Linked DNA regions of Homo sapiens. The protein of the gene in region 2 purifies or fractionates together with the protein of the main gene of each other region. This does not show direct contact. Each region holds a gene or a part of one and is shown on either strand. Other genes may lie near its edges.

Evidence for each region.
Region 1: the proteins of VRK3 (region 2) and HNRNPR purify together in Homo sapiens (affinity purification with mass spectrometry, with the first as the bait; one large-scale study listed by BioGRID). This does not show direct contact.
Region 3: the proteins of VRK3 (region 2) and CMYA5 purify together in Homo sapiens (affinity purification with mass spectrometry, with the first as the bait; one large-scale study listed by BioGRID). This does not show direct contact.
Region 4: the proteins of VRK3 (region 2) and PSME3IP1 purify together in Homo sapiens (affinity purification with mass spectrometry; one large-scale study listed by BioGRID and IntAct). This does not show direct contact.

The regions. Positions count from the first base shown.
Region 1 is NC_000001.11:23,316,785-23,320,284, reverse strand, and holds part of HNRNPR (heterogeneous nuclear ribonucleoprotein R), read left to right. Parts: intron 1-1,587; coding exon of another isoform or gene 1,588-1,596; coding exon 1,597-1,802; intron 1,803-3,500. UniProt on the Homo sapiens protein: Component of ribonucleosomes, which are complexes of at least 20 other different heterogeneous nuclear ribonucleoproteins (hnRNP). hnRNP play an important role in processing of precursor mRNA in the nucleus.
Region 2 is NC_000019.10:49,986,497-49,991,832, forward strand, and holds part of VRK3 (serine/threonine-protein kinase VRK3), read right to left. Parts: intron 3,276-5,336; coding exon 3,143-3,275; intron 1,997-3,142; coding exon 1,876-1,996; intron 438-1,875; coding exon of another isoform or gene 341-437; exon of another isoform or gene 1-340. UniProt on the Homo sapiens protein: Plays a role in the regulation of the cell cycle by phosphorylating the nuclear envelope protein barrier-to-autointegration factor/BAF that is required for disassembly and reassembly, respectively, of the nuclear envelope during mitosis.
Region 3 is NC_000005.10:79,731,336-79,734,835, forward strand, and holds part of CMYA5 (cardiomyopathy-associated protein 5), read left to right. Parts: coding exon 1-3,500. UniProt on the Homo sapiens protein: May serve as an anchoring protein that mediates the subcellular compartmentation of protein kinase A (PKA) via binding to PRKAR2A. May function as a repressor of calcineurin-mediated transcriptional activity.
Region 4 is NC_000016.10:57,165,540-57,169,039, reverse strand, and holds part of PSME3IP1 (PSME3-interacting protein), read left to right. Parts: intron 1-1,813; coding exon 1,814-1,947; intron 1,948-3,500. UniProt on the Homo sapiens protein: Promotes the association of the proteasome activator complex subunit PSME3 with the 20S proteasome and regulates its activity.

The DNA.
Region 1 (3,500 bases), on a different chromosome or scaffold from region 2:
TGTTGTCAAGTATTGTGTTGTCAACTGCTGGCACAGTTCTTTGACCTCATCACTTTATTATCTATAGCTCCTTCTGGCTTCATGATCATTTATTCATTCTTTCAGCAGGTGTTTATTAAAGTTCCTGTTAAGTGCTGGCATTGTGCTATGTGCCTGGGATACACTGATGGCTAAGAGACATATTCTCTGCTTTCATAGATCCTATATCCTGAGAAAGGAGATAAGACCAAGAATATAAAAAATAAAAATTAAAGGAATATTTAGACATTGTGATAAGACACTGAAGCAGGAAATACAGGATATTTAGCTAGAGAATAGCTACTATCCCTGTTTCCATGGTTTTGGAAGACTTTTCTGATAAGATGACATGTCAACCAGCACCTGAAGGATGAAGAGGTTGTAGCATACAAAGAGCAAAAGGAAGTGCATTCCAAGACAGCAACACGTGCCAAGGTTCCAAGGCAAGAAAGAAGTCAGTATATTACAGTAACTGAGGAGGCCAGTATTATTAAAAGGTAGAATTAGGAGTAGAGTTGTATGAAATGAAGTAGGCAGGGCTTCTGTAGGCCATGTAAGGAGTTGGGTTTTTATTGTATATATAATGAGAAGGTATTTAAAGGTTTTAAGCAGGAAATAACACCTATTTCTTGTTTATGGGATATTATTCCTAGCGCTCTGTGGATAGGGGCTTGGAGAGAAGGGGTGTGAGTGGAAGCTGATAAATTAGTTGAAGCTGTCATACTAGTACAGATACAGGATTAGACTAGGGTAATAGCAGTGGAGATAGAAAGAAGTAAATGAGTTTGGAATTGGATAGGAGAGATGAAGGAAGAAATCAAGAATGGCTAACCAATTTCTGGCTTCAGAACCAGGTGGATGGCACTGTTTATTAGATAGGAAGTCTAGGGAAGGCAGATTTTGGCCATGGTGGTTCAGTTTTGGAAAAGTTAAATTTGCAATGTCTAAGACATCAAAGAGGATACATCGGGTAAGAACGTAGGCACATCTAGAGCTTAGAGAAGTCTGGGGTAGGAAAAAAATCTAAGTATTTATAAGGGTATAGGTAACATTTAAAAGTAGGGCTAGCTGACATTATTTAGAAAGAACACATACGGAGAGATAAGGGCAAAGGACTAAGACCAGAGGAACACTAATATTTAGTGATCACTTCCATTCTTGGTAAAAATAGTAACTTTTAAGTTAGCTTCAAGGAAGATTTTTGGCCATGATTAGTTGTCAAAAGTTAGTTCTCTTGGGTTTATATTACTAATTTTGTTTTTAAGATCCTTGTTAGTGCTTTAATAAAGTCATGTTATATCAAACGCTCTAAAACATTGTAGCATGTTAAATGTCAGAATATAGTAGATTTGTTGTATATGGCTGTACCTTCAGAACCCCTAAAATTAAAAAGGAACATCAAATACTGTCCCAAACCCCATATCTAATTATGTTGATCTAATTGTCTACAAAATTAGTGACTCATGTTGAGGCTGCTTCACTTATATTTTGCTCATCGTCAAGTGGATTTAGGTCTGCCTAATCGCTAGATGTGTGGTGGATGCTTTTGGCTTATATATCTGGCTGTTGGTTTAACAGAGGGTTTGGTGGACGTTATTCTCTATCATCAACCCGATGACAAAAAGAAGAATCGGGGGTTCTGCTTCCTTGAATATGAGGATCACAAGTCAGCAGCACAAGCCAGACGCCGGCTGATGAGTGGAAAAGTAAAAGTGTGGGGAAATGTAGTTACAGTTGAATGGGCTGACCCTGTGGAAGAACCAGATCCAGAAGTCATGGCTAAGGTAAATACAGTTGCTTGGAATGGGCATAGGGTCATCATTTAAATTTTGTACTCAGAATAAAGCTCAAATATTTTGAGTTTTATGATAAATAGAAATTGTAGCTTTAGACTTCAACTGTTTGGCAAGGAGCGGCTTTAACACTAAAGTTAACAGCCTGTCTTGGTATCCAGGAATTTCCATTAACAATCCCTTTTCCTGCAGATTAAATGTGCAAAAGGAACTGAAATGAAATTCCTTCAATTAAGTAGTCCCATACACACTGGGTGTTTGTTTAGTGCTAGGCACTGTGAGGGATAGAGGTTTTTTTTTTTTTTAAAAGTCCTGAGTAAAGAGAGAAGTAATGTTTTGGAGATTATAAGTTATAATCTTCATTGACTATATTATGACTTTATTACTTGGCCATGAATTATGTTTTATTTAGATTTATAGCTAATTTTTCTTTTTTTAAGCTTTTTTTGTAGTTTTTATTTTTAAAAATATTTTATTTATTATTATTATTTTTTGAGACAGAGTCTTGCTGTGTTGCCCAGGCTGGAGTGCAGTGGTACGATCTCGGCTCACTGCAACCTCCACCTCCCAGGTTCAAGCGATTCTCCTTCCTCAGCCTCCCAAGTAGCTGGGACTACAGGCGCCTGCCACCATGCCCGGCTAAATTTTGTATTTTTAGTAGAGACAGCATTTCACCATATTGCAGGCTGGTCTCGAACTCCTAAGCTCATGATCTACCCGCCTTGGCCTCCCAAAGTGCTGGGATTAAGGCATGAGCCACCGTGCCCCGCCTCTTGTTTTTAAATGATCAGATTCCCTTAGTGTATTGTCCCCATGAAGAAAGGCAAAAGATTGTCATGTTTGCTCTTATTTGTTAGTGGCAAAATATGCATGGCAAGTCCTGTAAAGGGCCCTCAATTCCCTCCTGATTCCTGTACTTGCGTTGCCAGGATCTTAATAGTGGTGCCTTGAGTACTGGTTCTTAAGTTTTCCTTTGGGCGACTCCTGGGACACATCAGAGTTGCATTTCTTTTTTTTTGAGATGGAGTCTTGCTTTGTCCCAGGCTGGAGTGCAGTGGCGCGATCTCCACTCACGGCAAGCTCTGCCTCCTGGGTTCACGCCATTCTCCTGCCTCAGCCTCCCAAGTAGCTGGGACTACAGGTGCCCGCCACCACAGCTGGCTAATTTTTTGTATTTTTAGTAGAGACGGGGTTTCACCATGTTAGCCAGGGTGGTGTCCATCTCCTGACCCTGTGAACCGCCCGCCTCGGCCTCCCAAAGTGCTGGGGTTACAGGTGTGAGCCACTGCGCCCGGCCTCAGAGTTGCATTTCTGCTGCTTGCAATGAGCTCTTGAGCATTTTAGTTGTCTCTTCCCTTCACAGGGAGGCAGCAACTCTGAATGGCCATGAGTTAATGGTTGGATTCTTCTTGATAAGTCAGAAGTCAAGGTTTTTATTCCAGAATTTGAGGAGGCAAACCCTCGTTCTAAGTAGTTTGGAGGAGAACTCTGGTTTATACTTGTATAAAGTCTGGGTTGGCAGTGACATCTTTGGGTTAATCAGATAAGTTCTATTCAGAATGAACCAGAGAGGCTCTCAGAAGTGCTACTCAGTATCTTTTATCTCATATTCCTTGAGTAGATGGGTGTCTAGGAAAGGGATAGAGAATTTAAATAGCTCTGAGTTTTTATTTTGATTTTTTACTAGCT
Region 2 (5,336 bases):
CACACACAGCACCACGGCCAGCATGCGATTTTGAGGGTACAAATACATCTAAGTGAACACATCAGAACACATGTTAAGTGTGCTTGAGCAGCTGTCCATGGTTGAGAGAAGGAAGTTGGGAGACACGAAGGGAGTAAAATAAAACGAGAAAGGCTTCATGTGAGGGAAGGACTGGGAAGGACTTCACGGCACACTAAGGACAGGGAAACATGAGGGACTCAACGCCATTTACTGGAGGGTTCACCCTCTTCCCACTCTATATGCCTTCCCAGATAATCTCATCCTCTCCTGGGGCTTCAGCTGATGGCTCCGGAGATATTCCCGGGGTCTGAGTCTCCCTTTAGACTTCACTCCTGCACTTCAGACGTAGATGGCCAGCTGCCTCCCAGATGACTTGGGCAACAAGTCCAAGACGGAGTCTTGCTTTGTCACCCAGGCTGGAATGCAGTGGCGAGAGCTCGGCTCACTGCAACCTCCACCTCCCGGGTTCAAGCAATTTTCCTGCCTCAGCAGGGATTACAGGTGCCCACCACTGCTTCGGCTAATTTTTGTTATTTTCAGTAGAGACAGAGTTTCACTATGTTGGCCAGGCTGGTCTCGAACTGCTGACCTCGAGATCCATCTGCCTTGGCCTCCCAAAGTGCTGGGATTAAGGCGTGAACCACCGTGCCCGGCCTGGGCAACTGATATTCATGTCTGAAGTGCATGCCTAGCACGCCCGCTAGGATCAGCTGCCCACTGTCCTTGGTGCTGAACTCATACCCACAGCGCTTCCCTTTTGTGCTCCGCTGTCCCTGGTGCTGAACCCACATCCCTAGCACTTCCCTTTTGTGTCCCGCTGCCTGCTGTTCTTGGTGCTGAACACACACCTTAGTGCCTCCCTTTTGTGCCCAGCTGCCTGCTGTCCCTAGTGCTGAACCCATACCCCTAGTGCTCCCTCTGTGTCCAGCTGCTCAATGCCCTTAGTGTTCAATCTCACCCCAGAACTTCCTCATATGTTCCGCTGTCCACCGGCTTTGGTGCTGAATGTTTAAACCAGCACTGGTAAGACCTGGTGGTTTACACAGAGGTGAAGGCACTGATCTGGCAGTGTGGACACTGCATAGGTGGTGCTACCAGTGCTGAGGCAGGGCCTGGGCCTATCCTGCTCAGATTGCCTGCATGTTTGTGATGAATGAGTCATAGTTTCCCACACACAATGAGCTTTTTTTTTTTTTTTTTTTTGAGACGGAGTCTCGCTCTGTCGCCCAGGCTGGAGTGCAGTGGTGCAATCTTGGCTCACTGCAAGCTCCCACTCCCAGGTTCACGCCATTCTCCTGCCTCAGCCTCCCAAGTAGCTGGGACTACAGGCGCCCGCCACCATGCCTGGCTAATTTTTTGTATTTTTAGTAGAGACGGGGTTTCACTGTGTTAGTCAGGATGGTCTCGATCTCCTGACCTCGTGATCCGCCCGCCTCTGCCTCCCAAAGTGCTGGGATTACAGGCGTGAGCCACCGCGCCCGGCCACAATGAGCATTTTCTCTGAGCCAGCCCCTGTGCTAAGTGCTGTGTGCACCTGACTTCCCTGAACTCTTTGCAGTCCCATAAGGTAGTAGCTAGTAGGAGACCATCTCATGGAGCAGGACACTGAGGCTCGCAGACGTTAACACCCCACAGTGGTGGTGCCAGAGTCTGAGCCCAGGCAGTGTGGCTCCGGAACACCTGCCTCGCCTGCTGTGTGGACACTGCAGCACATGCCTGTGCGGCTCAGAGGACTTGGGCTCTGCTGGATGCCACCTCCCCTTCCCTCCTGCTCCCAGTTGGGCTCTGGGCTTCTGTCCACCTGCAGGGGTTCTGCTGACCACCTGCAGGGGTTCTGCTGACCCCTAGACTCACTTCTGTTTTTGCTTCATGATGTCCTCAGTGTTGGGAAGGCAATTTGTCCATGGCAGAAACCCGTAGAGCCACTTCAGCATGCAGTAGCCCAGGCTCTGGAGGTCGCTGCGGCGGGAGGGCCCTGGGGAAGGAGGAGTAAAGGTGGCAGCTCAAGTCTGGACGCTCCACTCACTGGTGGGTCCACCCCCCTTCCTTCCCCTCTCTCTCACTGACTCAACCACACACTCATACACCCAGCCTTCCAGCCATATGGGCTGTCTCCTCCGCTCATTCACTTTCATGAGTAGGCAGAAGCTGACTCATTCTCTCTCTCACTCAACCATTCTCTCAGCCCCTTTTACCAGGTCACCCTCATCCACTCCTCTTTCATTCATGCACTCATTCAATCAAGCCTCAGCACCCGTGTGCCAGGCCCAGCTCACTTCTGAAAACCCAGACCAGGATCTCGTCGGGTCCCAGCCCGTGACAGCCTAGTGGGGAGACAGCTATAGCGTGCGACTACCTGAGTGACAAAGGACACAGAACACACGGGAGCCCAGAAGGATGGGTACCAAACCCAGCCTCAGTGGGGGAGGGCGGGGGAGACTCTGACAGTTTATTTTTCTTATGCTTCCTGAGCATAAGACAACGCTTAATTTAGACAACGCTTTGTGTAAGCACTCGACAAGCACTACTTGTCCGTGCTGGCCTTCCACCACCCGATGCTGGAGGCAGGGGTGCCATCCCTGTACTGGGGGAGCTCAGTCTGATGGGAGGATGTGGCAGGCATGTGGACGGCCATGATATAAAGGGATGTGAGAAAGAGGGGCTCAAGAAATCTGCCCTGGGCCCTCTTCCTAGTCTGTACACTTTCCCTGGATGATCCCATCCTCTCCCAGGGCTTCGGCTGATAACTTCTGAGATACTGCAGAGCCTCTGCCCAGATCTCCCTCCCACACTCCAGATGTGGTGGCCAACCACCTCCTCAACAGCCCCTCCTGGATGACTCCTAGGCAACTCCCATCTTCCAAGTCTACAACAGATCCTGAACCCCAACCTCTGGAACTCAGGCTCCCCAGTGCCCAGCCTCCCACTATGCTTAGTGCTGAACCGCTACCCCACCCACCTCCCTTGCGGTCGGGACGCTGTCTGTGGTTCCAATCCCTGTCCTGGCGCCCTTAGTGCCTCTCCTGTCTGGCCACCTGCTGTCTCTGGCTGTGAACTCCTAGAGCTGCCCTTGTATAAGAAGCATCTCTCTGCGGTCCCAAACCCATCCCTGGCCTCGTACCGCATCCCTTGTGCAGGTCCATGCTAATGAACTCAAGGTCCCCCTCGTGAGGGCTCCTGCTGCCTTCCACGTAGGCCACGTGTTTGCCACTTGGGCAATAGCGGAAGGCGAAGCCATAGCCTGCCAAAGTCACCTGTGGACACAGGGAAAAGCCATACAGATTGGAGGTTAGGAGCGTAGAAGTCAGAGATTTCCATCGTGGGTGCAAGTGACAACAAACATTCTACCAAAGATGGCATTTTTCACTTACAAAACTAAGGCATGCTCATAGTAAAAATGATGTGAAGTAAAAAGAACCCAAACCAGCCATCCATATTTCCTCCCAGCCCCTAAAACCCATCGCCCAGAAATAACCACTAGTAACAGTTTCGTATGCATCATTCCAAAATTTTTTTTTTTTTTTAAATAACCAGGTAAACATATGTGGATGGGGAGGGGGCTCTTGTTTTCCACAGAGGCCTCACACCAGACCTCCTGTTGGGCACCGGCACTTTACACTTTAATAGTGGTTCTGGGCATTAACTCTGGGGCCAGATGGCCTGGGTTCAAATGCCAACTCAGCCCGCTGGTGGCGGTACAACCTTGGGCAAGCTATACCAGTTCTCTCTGCTATGATTTCTCCATTTGTAAAATGATGATAATAATAGTCCCCACCTCAAAGGGTTCTTATAAGGCTTAACTGAGTTTAAAACAAAAGTTAAATGCTTTCTGCCTGATACATAAAGTTAACCAAATCTTCTTTCAAAAATATCTACTTATTTATTTTGAGATGGGGTTTCACTCTGTCACCCAGGCTGGAGTGCAGTGGCGCGATCACGGCTCACTGCAGCCTCCTAGGCTCCAGTGATCCTCCCACCTCAGCCTCCCGAGTAGCTGGGACTACAGGCATGCACCACCATGCCCAGCCGATTTTTTGTAAAGATGGGGTTTTGCCCTGTTGCCCAGGCTGGTCTTGAACCCCTGGGTTCAAGTGATCCTCCTGCCTTGGCCACTGTGCCCAGTCCATGTCTTCTTTTCAATGGCTGCATCTTATTCCACCATATGGATAGTGGACAACTGTTGGTTTTGTCTATGTAAGACCTATATACACTTCCCCGGCTCCCTGTTTTTCTGTTTACAGTTTGTGGTGTTCATTAAAAAAATAATTTTTTTTTTTTAAGTTTTGAGACAGGGTCTCACTGGGTCACGCAGGTTGGAGTGCAGTGGTATGATCATGGCTCACTGCAGTCTCCATCTCCTGGGCTCAGGTGATCCTTCTACCTCAGCCTCCTGAGTAGCTGGAACCACATGTGTATGCCACTACACCTGGATAGGTTATTATTTTTTATTTTGTACAGATGAGGTTCCCTATGTTTCCCAGGCTGGTCTCGAACTCCTGGGCTCAAGCGATCCGATCCTTCCACTTTGGCCTCCTAAACTGCTGGAATTACAGGTGTGAGCCACTGGGCCTGGCCATGATGGTCATTTTTATGTGGCAACTTGACTGGGCCATGGGGTGCCCAGACATTTGGCCAAACCCTATTCTGGGAGTGTCTATGAGGGTGTTCTGGATGAGATGAACATTGGGGTTTGTAGACTGAGCAAGGCAGATTATTCTCCTTAATGTGGGTGGGTCTCATTCAATCAACTCAAGATGTGAATAGAATAAAAAGCTAAGTAACCAGAAGCTCCTCCTCCCTGACTGCTTGAGCTAGAACATTGGTCTTTTCCTGCCTTTGGACTTGAACTGAAACAACCCCTCTTCTTGGGTCTCAGGCCTGCTGGCCTTTGGATTGGAACTTACATCATTGGCTCTCCTAGGTCTCCAGATTGCAAACTGAAGAATCTCAGGACTGCTTAGCTTCCATTATCAATAAGCCAATTCCTTATAATAAATCTCTACACACACACACACACGCACACACACACACACCCTGCCAGTTCTGTTTCTCTGAAGATTCCTAATGCTTAGTTCCAGGATTTTCATCTGGGATTGCTTTTCCCCAGTTCTCAGTCCACGCAGTTCAGGTCTGTTTCTGCCAGGGCTGCTAAGCTTTGGGGATTTAAGCCTAATTTGCTGGTGGCAATTTTGTCACCATGAGGAATAAGTCTGCCTGACAACGAGCAGTGCAGAAGCATGAGGAGTCCAGAGATGGGAGAGCCGGCTTCCCAATGACAGGGTTTGAGCTCCTGGATCCTGCCGTGCCCGAGACAG
Region 3 (3,500 bases), on a different chromosome or scaffold from region 2:
ACCACACACAACCGAGATGACTTCTGAATGCCAGGCCCCACCACTTTCAGCCACCCCATCTGAATATGTTGTTCTATCAGACGAAGAGGCAGTCGAGTTGGAACGATACACACCCTCTTCTACATCTGCTTCTGAATTTTCAGTACCACCATATGCAACACCGGAGGCACAGGAGGAAGAAATTGTCCATAGATCTCTAAATCTAAAAGGTGCATCCTCACCCATGAATTTATCAGAAGAAGATCAAGAAGACATTGGACCTTTTTCTCCAGATTCTGCATTTGTGTCAGAATTCTCATTTCCACCGTATGCAACCCAGGAAGCAGAGAAAAGAGAATTTGAGTGCGATTCTCCAATATGTTTAACATCACCATCTGAGCACACTATTTTGTCAGATGAAGACACTGAAGAAGCGGAACTGTTCTCTCCAGACTCAGCATCACAAGTTTCAATCCCTCCCTTTAGAATCTCAGAAACAGAGAAAAATGAACTTGAGCCTGATTCACTATTAACTGCAGTGTCTGCTTCAGGTTATTCCTGCTTTTCAGAAGCAGATGAGGAAGACATTGGATCCACAGCTGCTACACCTGTATCTGAGCAGTTCAGTTCATCACAGAAGCAAAAAGCTGAAACTTTCCCTTTGATGTCTCCGCTTGAAGACTTAAGTCTGCCGCCTTCAACAGATAAATCAGAGAAAGCAGAAATTAAGCCAGAGATTCCAACAACCTCAACATCTGTATCTGAATATCTCATTTTGGCACAGAAGCAGAAAACTCAAGCATATTTAGAGCCTGAGTCTGAAGACTTGATTCCTTCACATTTAACCAGTGAAGTGGAGAAGGGAGAAAGGGAGGCAAGTTCATCAGTAGCTGCAATACCTGCTGCTTTACCTGCACAATCATCTATAGTAAAGGAAGAAACCAAACCTGCATCTCCACATTCAGTTTTACCTGATTCAGTCCCTGCAATCAAGAAAGAACAGGAACCCACAGCAGCACTCACTCTAAAAGCTGCAGATGAACAGATGGCTTTGTCAAAAGTCAGAAAGGAAGAAATTGTGCCTGATTCTCAAGAAGCTACAGCACATGTATCACAGGATCAAAAAATGGAGCCTCAGCCTCCAAATGTTCCAGAGTCTGAGATGAAATATTCAGTTTTGCCTGACATGGTAGATGAGCCAAAGAAGGGTGTCAAGCCCAAATTAGTTCTAAATGTGACTTCTGAACTAGAACAGAGAAAGTTGTCCAAGAATGAGCCTGAAGTAATAAAACCATATTCACCTCTAAAGGAAACATCTTTATCTGGACCTGAGGCTTTATCAGCAGTGAAAATGGAGATGAAACATGATTCCAAAATAACAACTACACCTATAGTGCTTCATTCAGCTTCCTCAGGAGTGGAAAAGCAAGTTGAACATGGTCCACCTGCACTAGCATTTTCAGCTTTGTCAGAAGAAATTAAAAAAGAAATTGAACCCAGTTCCTCAACAACTACAGCATCTGTAACTAAGCTTGATTCAAACTTAACCAGAGCAGTAAAAGAAGAAATCCCAACAGATTCATCTCTTATCACTCCTGTAGATCGTCCAGTCTTAACAAAAGTAGGAAAGGGTGAATTAGGAAGTGGTTTGCCACCACTGGTAACATCTGCAGATGAACATTCAGTTCTTGCAGAAGAAGACAAGGTGGCAATTAAAGGTGCTTCTCCCATTGAAACTTCATCCAAACATTTAGCTTGGTCAGAAGCAGAGAAGGAAATTAAATTTGATTCACTTCCAAGTGTCTCCTCTATAGCAGAGCATTCTGTTTTGTCAGAAGTAGAAGCCAAAGAAGTTAAAGCTGGGTTGCCAGTAATCAAAACATCATCTTCTCAGCATTCAGATAAATCTGAGGAAGCAAGGGTAGAAGACAAACAAGATCTTTTATTTTCTACAGTCTGTGACTCTGAACGTTTGGTTTCATCACAGAAGAAGAGCTTGATGTCTACCTCAGAGGTGTTAGAGCCTGAACATGAGCTTCCACTCAGCCTATGGGGTGAGATAAAGAAGAAAGAAACTGAACTTCCTTCATCACAAAATGTGTCACCTGCATCCAAACATATAATCCCAAAAGGCAAAGATGAGGAAACAGCAAGTTCATCTCCTGAGTTGGAAAATTTAGCATCAGGTTTAGCCCCAACATTACTGCTCCTCAGTGATGATAAGAACAAACCGGCAGTGGAGGTATCTTCTACAGCTCAGGGAGACTTCCCATCAGAAAAACAAGATGTTGCTTTGGCAGAGCTGTCTTTGGAACCTGAGAAGAAAGACAAGCCACACCAACCGTTGGAATTACCAAATGCTGGGTCAGAATTTTCTAGTGATTTAGGTAGACAAAGTGGATCCATAGGTACAAAACAAGCAAAGTCTCCCATAACTGAAACAGAGGATTCTGTTTTAGAAAAAGGCCCAGCTGAGCTTAGGAGCAGAGAAGGAAAAGAAGAAAATAGAGAGCTTTGTGCATCTTCTACGATGCCTGCAATTTCAGAGCTTTCATCATTGCTTAGGGAGGAATCTCAGAATGAAGAAATTAAACCTTTCTCTCCCAAGATCATCAGCCTAGAGTCGAAAGAACCACCTGCCTCTGTAGCTGAAGGAGGCAACCCAGAAGAATTTCAGCCATTTACTTTTTCTTTAAAAGGATTATCAGAGGAGGTTAGCCATCCAGCCGACTTTAAAAAGGGAGGAAATCAAGAAATAGGCCCATTACCACCAACTGGAAATTTGAAGGCACAAGTCATGGGAGATATTTTAGATAAGCTAAGTGAAGAAACAGGCCACCCAAATTCATCCCAGGTACTCCAGAGTATAACAGAACCATCAAAGATTGCTCCTTCTGACCTCCTTGTAGAACAAAAAAAGACAGAAAAAGCACTTCATTCAGATCAAACTGTTAAATTACCTGATGTAAGCACCTCTTCTGAAGATAAACAAGATCTGGGTATTAAGCAGTTTTCACTTATGAGAGAGAATTTGCCTTTGGAACAATCAAAATCATTTATGACAACCAAGCCTGCGGATGTCAAAGAAACAAAAATGGAAGAATTCTTTATTTCTCCAAAGGATGAAAACTGGATGTTGGGAAAGCCAGAAAATGTGGCTAGTCAACACGAACAGAGAATAGCAGGATCTGTGCAGCTGGATTCCTCTAGCAGCAATGAGCTGAGGCCAGGGCAGCTCAAGGCTGCTGTGTCCAGTAAGGACCATACATGTGAAGTGAGAAAGCAGGTCCTGCCGCATTCTGCTGAAGAATCTCATTTGTCATCACAAGAAGCAGTATCTGCTCTTGATACTTCCAGTGGTAATACAGAGACCTTATCAAGTAAAAGTTACTCTTCTGAAGAAGTAAAGCTGGCTGAAGAACCAAAGTCTTTAGTCCTAGCTGGAAATGTAGAGAGAAACATAGCAGAGGGGAAGGAGATTCATTCTTTGATGGAGAGTGAAAGTTTGCTATTGGAGAAAG
Region 4 (3,500 bases), on a different chromosome or scaffold from region 2:
AAAGTTAAATGTTGGGTTTTGTCTATGTCGTGGTATAAATAATGTATAAATATATACATGCTTTTGTTGTGTTTTTTTTCCATTTTTGTTTTTTTTTAATATTTAATATTGAGAGTTTTGAGAACTTCTGTCTCCTAATGATGGAGTTGCAGATAAAAAATCACAACATGCTAATTTTTTTTTGGCATTCTCTCCTAGAAAGATGAAATCTTTTTTTTTTTTTTTTTTTTTTTTTTGAGACAGAGTTTCGCTCTTGTTACCCAGGCTGGAGTGCGGTGGCACGATCTCAGCTCACCACAATCTCTGCCTCCCGGGTTCAAGCGATTCTCCTGGCTCAGCCTCCCGACTAGCTGGGATTACAGGAATGTGCCACCACACCCAGCTAATTTTTTGTCTTTTTAGTAGAGACAGGGTTTCTCCATGCTGGTCAGGCTGGTCTTGAACTCCCGACCTCAGTTGATCTGCCCACCTCGGCCTCCCAAAGTGCTAGGATTACAGGCATGAGCCACTGTGCCTGGCCAATCTATTTTTTTTTAAATAAAAATGAGTATTAACATTATCTATTTCCATGATGACCCTAAAAACATTAAATTCATTAAACTCATAATAGTACTAAGCATTATATCTAATTTCCATTGCATACTGCAAATATTTAAGGTAACTTGTGCCCATAAGAACAGAGTTAGTTGCCTGGAGAGTGATTAGAATTAGAATCTTAGGATTTCTGGAAAATCTTAGGATTTTCTCCATTGTTCAAAGACACGTAGATAAATAACCTTAACCATACATCCTCTACTTCCACCCACCTTTTTGGGCTGATAATTCATGCTTCTTAGATTTCCTGGGCACTAGATGTCACTATTGTTCCAGGCACTAGTGCATCTTAAATAAGGACTTGCACTGTGTCAGAATACTTATCTGTTGTCTAAGACGTTTCAAGAGAGAGCATAAAACGGAGGGAGAAGTGGAGGGAGAGGAGGGAGGGCTGGTGGAGGGAACAAGTGAAAGTGACCTCCCCGACAAAAATATGGGGCCTTTCTTCACTTCAAAAGAGTAAAAAGTTGAGAGCCAGAGATTGGCATCAAGAACGAAAAACTGATGTTACAAGCGAACTGGTCATGCTTTTAAAAATAGCTTTTCAGTTCTTGTATATATGCACAGGATTTCTCATTAAAATCACCTTTGATTGTTTCTTGGCCTTTTGGCTAAGATCAAGTGTAAAATCACCTTCAGAGAGTGTTTAAAACAAACTCCCGGGCCTCTAGAGGTCTCATTCAGTAGGTTTGGGGCAGGGAGGGACTTGACATGTTTAATGAGCCTTGGGGTGATTCTGATGTTTCCTTGCACCAGTGGAGCAGGAGTTAGTCTTCGTGATGTCTAAGATTAATTGCCACTGATAGTCAGAACAACATTCTGCAAAATTTGATTTAACCCTTGAAGGGGGAAGCATGTTTTCAGGGAAGCCACATTTTTTTTTCTGTTTTCTTTATATTCCTTAAGATCTGTTTTCCTCATCAAGCATGATATTGGCCATGTCCTTGGTAATAGTGGGTTTTGTGGCTATGCTCAGATTTTCATTGAGAATCAGAGGAAAAGGTTGCTTATCTGTATTATTTTGGGCTTTATATGCTGTCTTCCTCCATGGTCTCTTTCATTTATCTTTGAATTGGCTGGATTTGACTGGCAGAATAAAGAAGGGTGGGGCATTTATTTAAATAAGTAGGCCAGACATTACATCGCACAGCCGAAGGGCTAGTGGGTTATATTTGTTGTCTTCCCTTTTGCTTAGTTTGACCCTTAACTGGTAACTCACAATAACCTCAAGAAGGTTGGAATTTCTCAAGAGAACAAGAAGGAAGTGGAAAAGAAACTGACTGTGAAGCCTATAGAAACCAAGAACAAGTTCTCCCAGGCGAAGCTGTTGGCAGGAGCTGTGAAGCATAAGAGGTTAGTCAGCACTCACACAACTCAGATTTCTCTCTGACCGTGTACTCTGAAACACCACTTGTAATGGAAGCCAGAGCCAACGCTTGCCTCGCGTGAGTCCTGGTGAAGTTCCCTTGGTGTGCTCACCTATCTCTCCCTTTCCAGATTTGAGGCCTTCTATAGGCTTTGACCCTCGTCTCTCTGATCACTTATTCAACAAATATAAATAATAGCTACTCTTCAGTGGGGATCTGCCACACCAGGCATTGTGTTAAGTGCTTCCTGTGCATAATCCCATGTATTCTTCAACAACCCTATGAAGTACAATTATAATCCCTGTTTTGTAGATGAGAAGACCAAGAGTTTGAGAGGTTGAGACCCTTCTTTGTGCAAGATCATAGAGAAACAGAGAGCTAGAGTTCATTATTTGGGCTTCTGTCTAGAAAAATGAGGTAGTGAGTCTTGTGAAAGGATCTGTGTAGGGTGTACTGAGAGCAAGGAGGAGGAGCATACAATGCTGCTGGGAGGGTGTTGTGTGCATCTTCATGTTGGGGAGGTTGGGGGAAACCATTGGAAAGATGCTGATTAGGTAGGACAACTAGGGCTTTGACAAGCAACAAGGGAGAGAACAGTCTAAGCAGAGGGAATAGCTGCTGCAAAGGCATCCTGTCCTGAAAGAACATGGCAGCCCTGGCAGGGTTACAGACCTGGCTGTGGCTAGGTTTGGATTGATGTGGAAGTGATAGCACTGTCTCAAGGCTATGATAAGTTCTTTGCTATGTTTGCTCCTCCCTTTCCAAATCCTGAAATGTCATCAGAGTGATTGAATCTGGTCATTTAGATTTGACCCAACAGACTGTGGGCGAAATGATAAGTTTAAGTGCAGTCTATTAGGAAAATCAATATGATATATTGGCAACCAGCCATATGTTTTGAAGGGAGTGTATTGATGCAGTCTTGTGGTTTGGCACACCACCCATCTGCTGCAGATGTTCTTAGGAACACTGCCTACATGTAAAAATGTCATGCTGGTATAGCAACAGAGGGGAGGAGTTATCCTGAGAAGGGCTCGCTACCCAAACCATGAATTATTCCTTTCAAGTTCTCACATAAGCTTTCCTGCAAGACTAGGGACTCGCAGGATTTGGACCTGGGTCAGTTTTACTGGAATATGCCAAGGGAGGGCTCTCCAGGTGATCAATTTGTTATCCCTTGAGACTGCTCTTGGTGGTCGCAGAATGGGTGTTGTAACTGTTTCCCTTAGTTCTTAGATCACCTTTAGAAAAGGCTCTGTAGTAGCGTATTTGGTGACCTGCATATAACCCCTTTTGGGTTTTGAAACAACATCATTTAATGTTTCTTTGTGTAGTAAGGTAGTCTCCTGGGGCAGGAGTTCCTAATCTGTCCGACCCTGAGTTTATTGGAATCACCTGGGAGTTTGTTAATAATTTATATTCGCAGGCCTTGCACTAATTCTGGTTCAGTAAGTTTGAAGTGAAGTCTGGGAGTCGTAGTTTTCAAAGTTCCATGAGTGATTCTGCTGCCTGGTGAAGGTCTGGAAGCCATTGGCATGT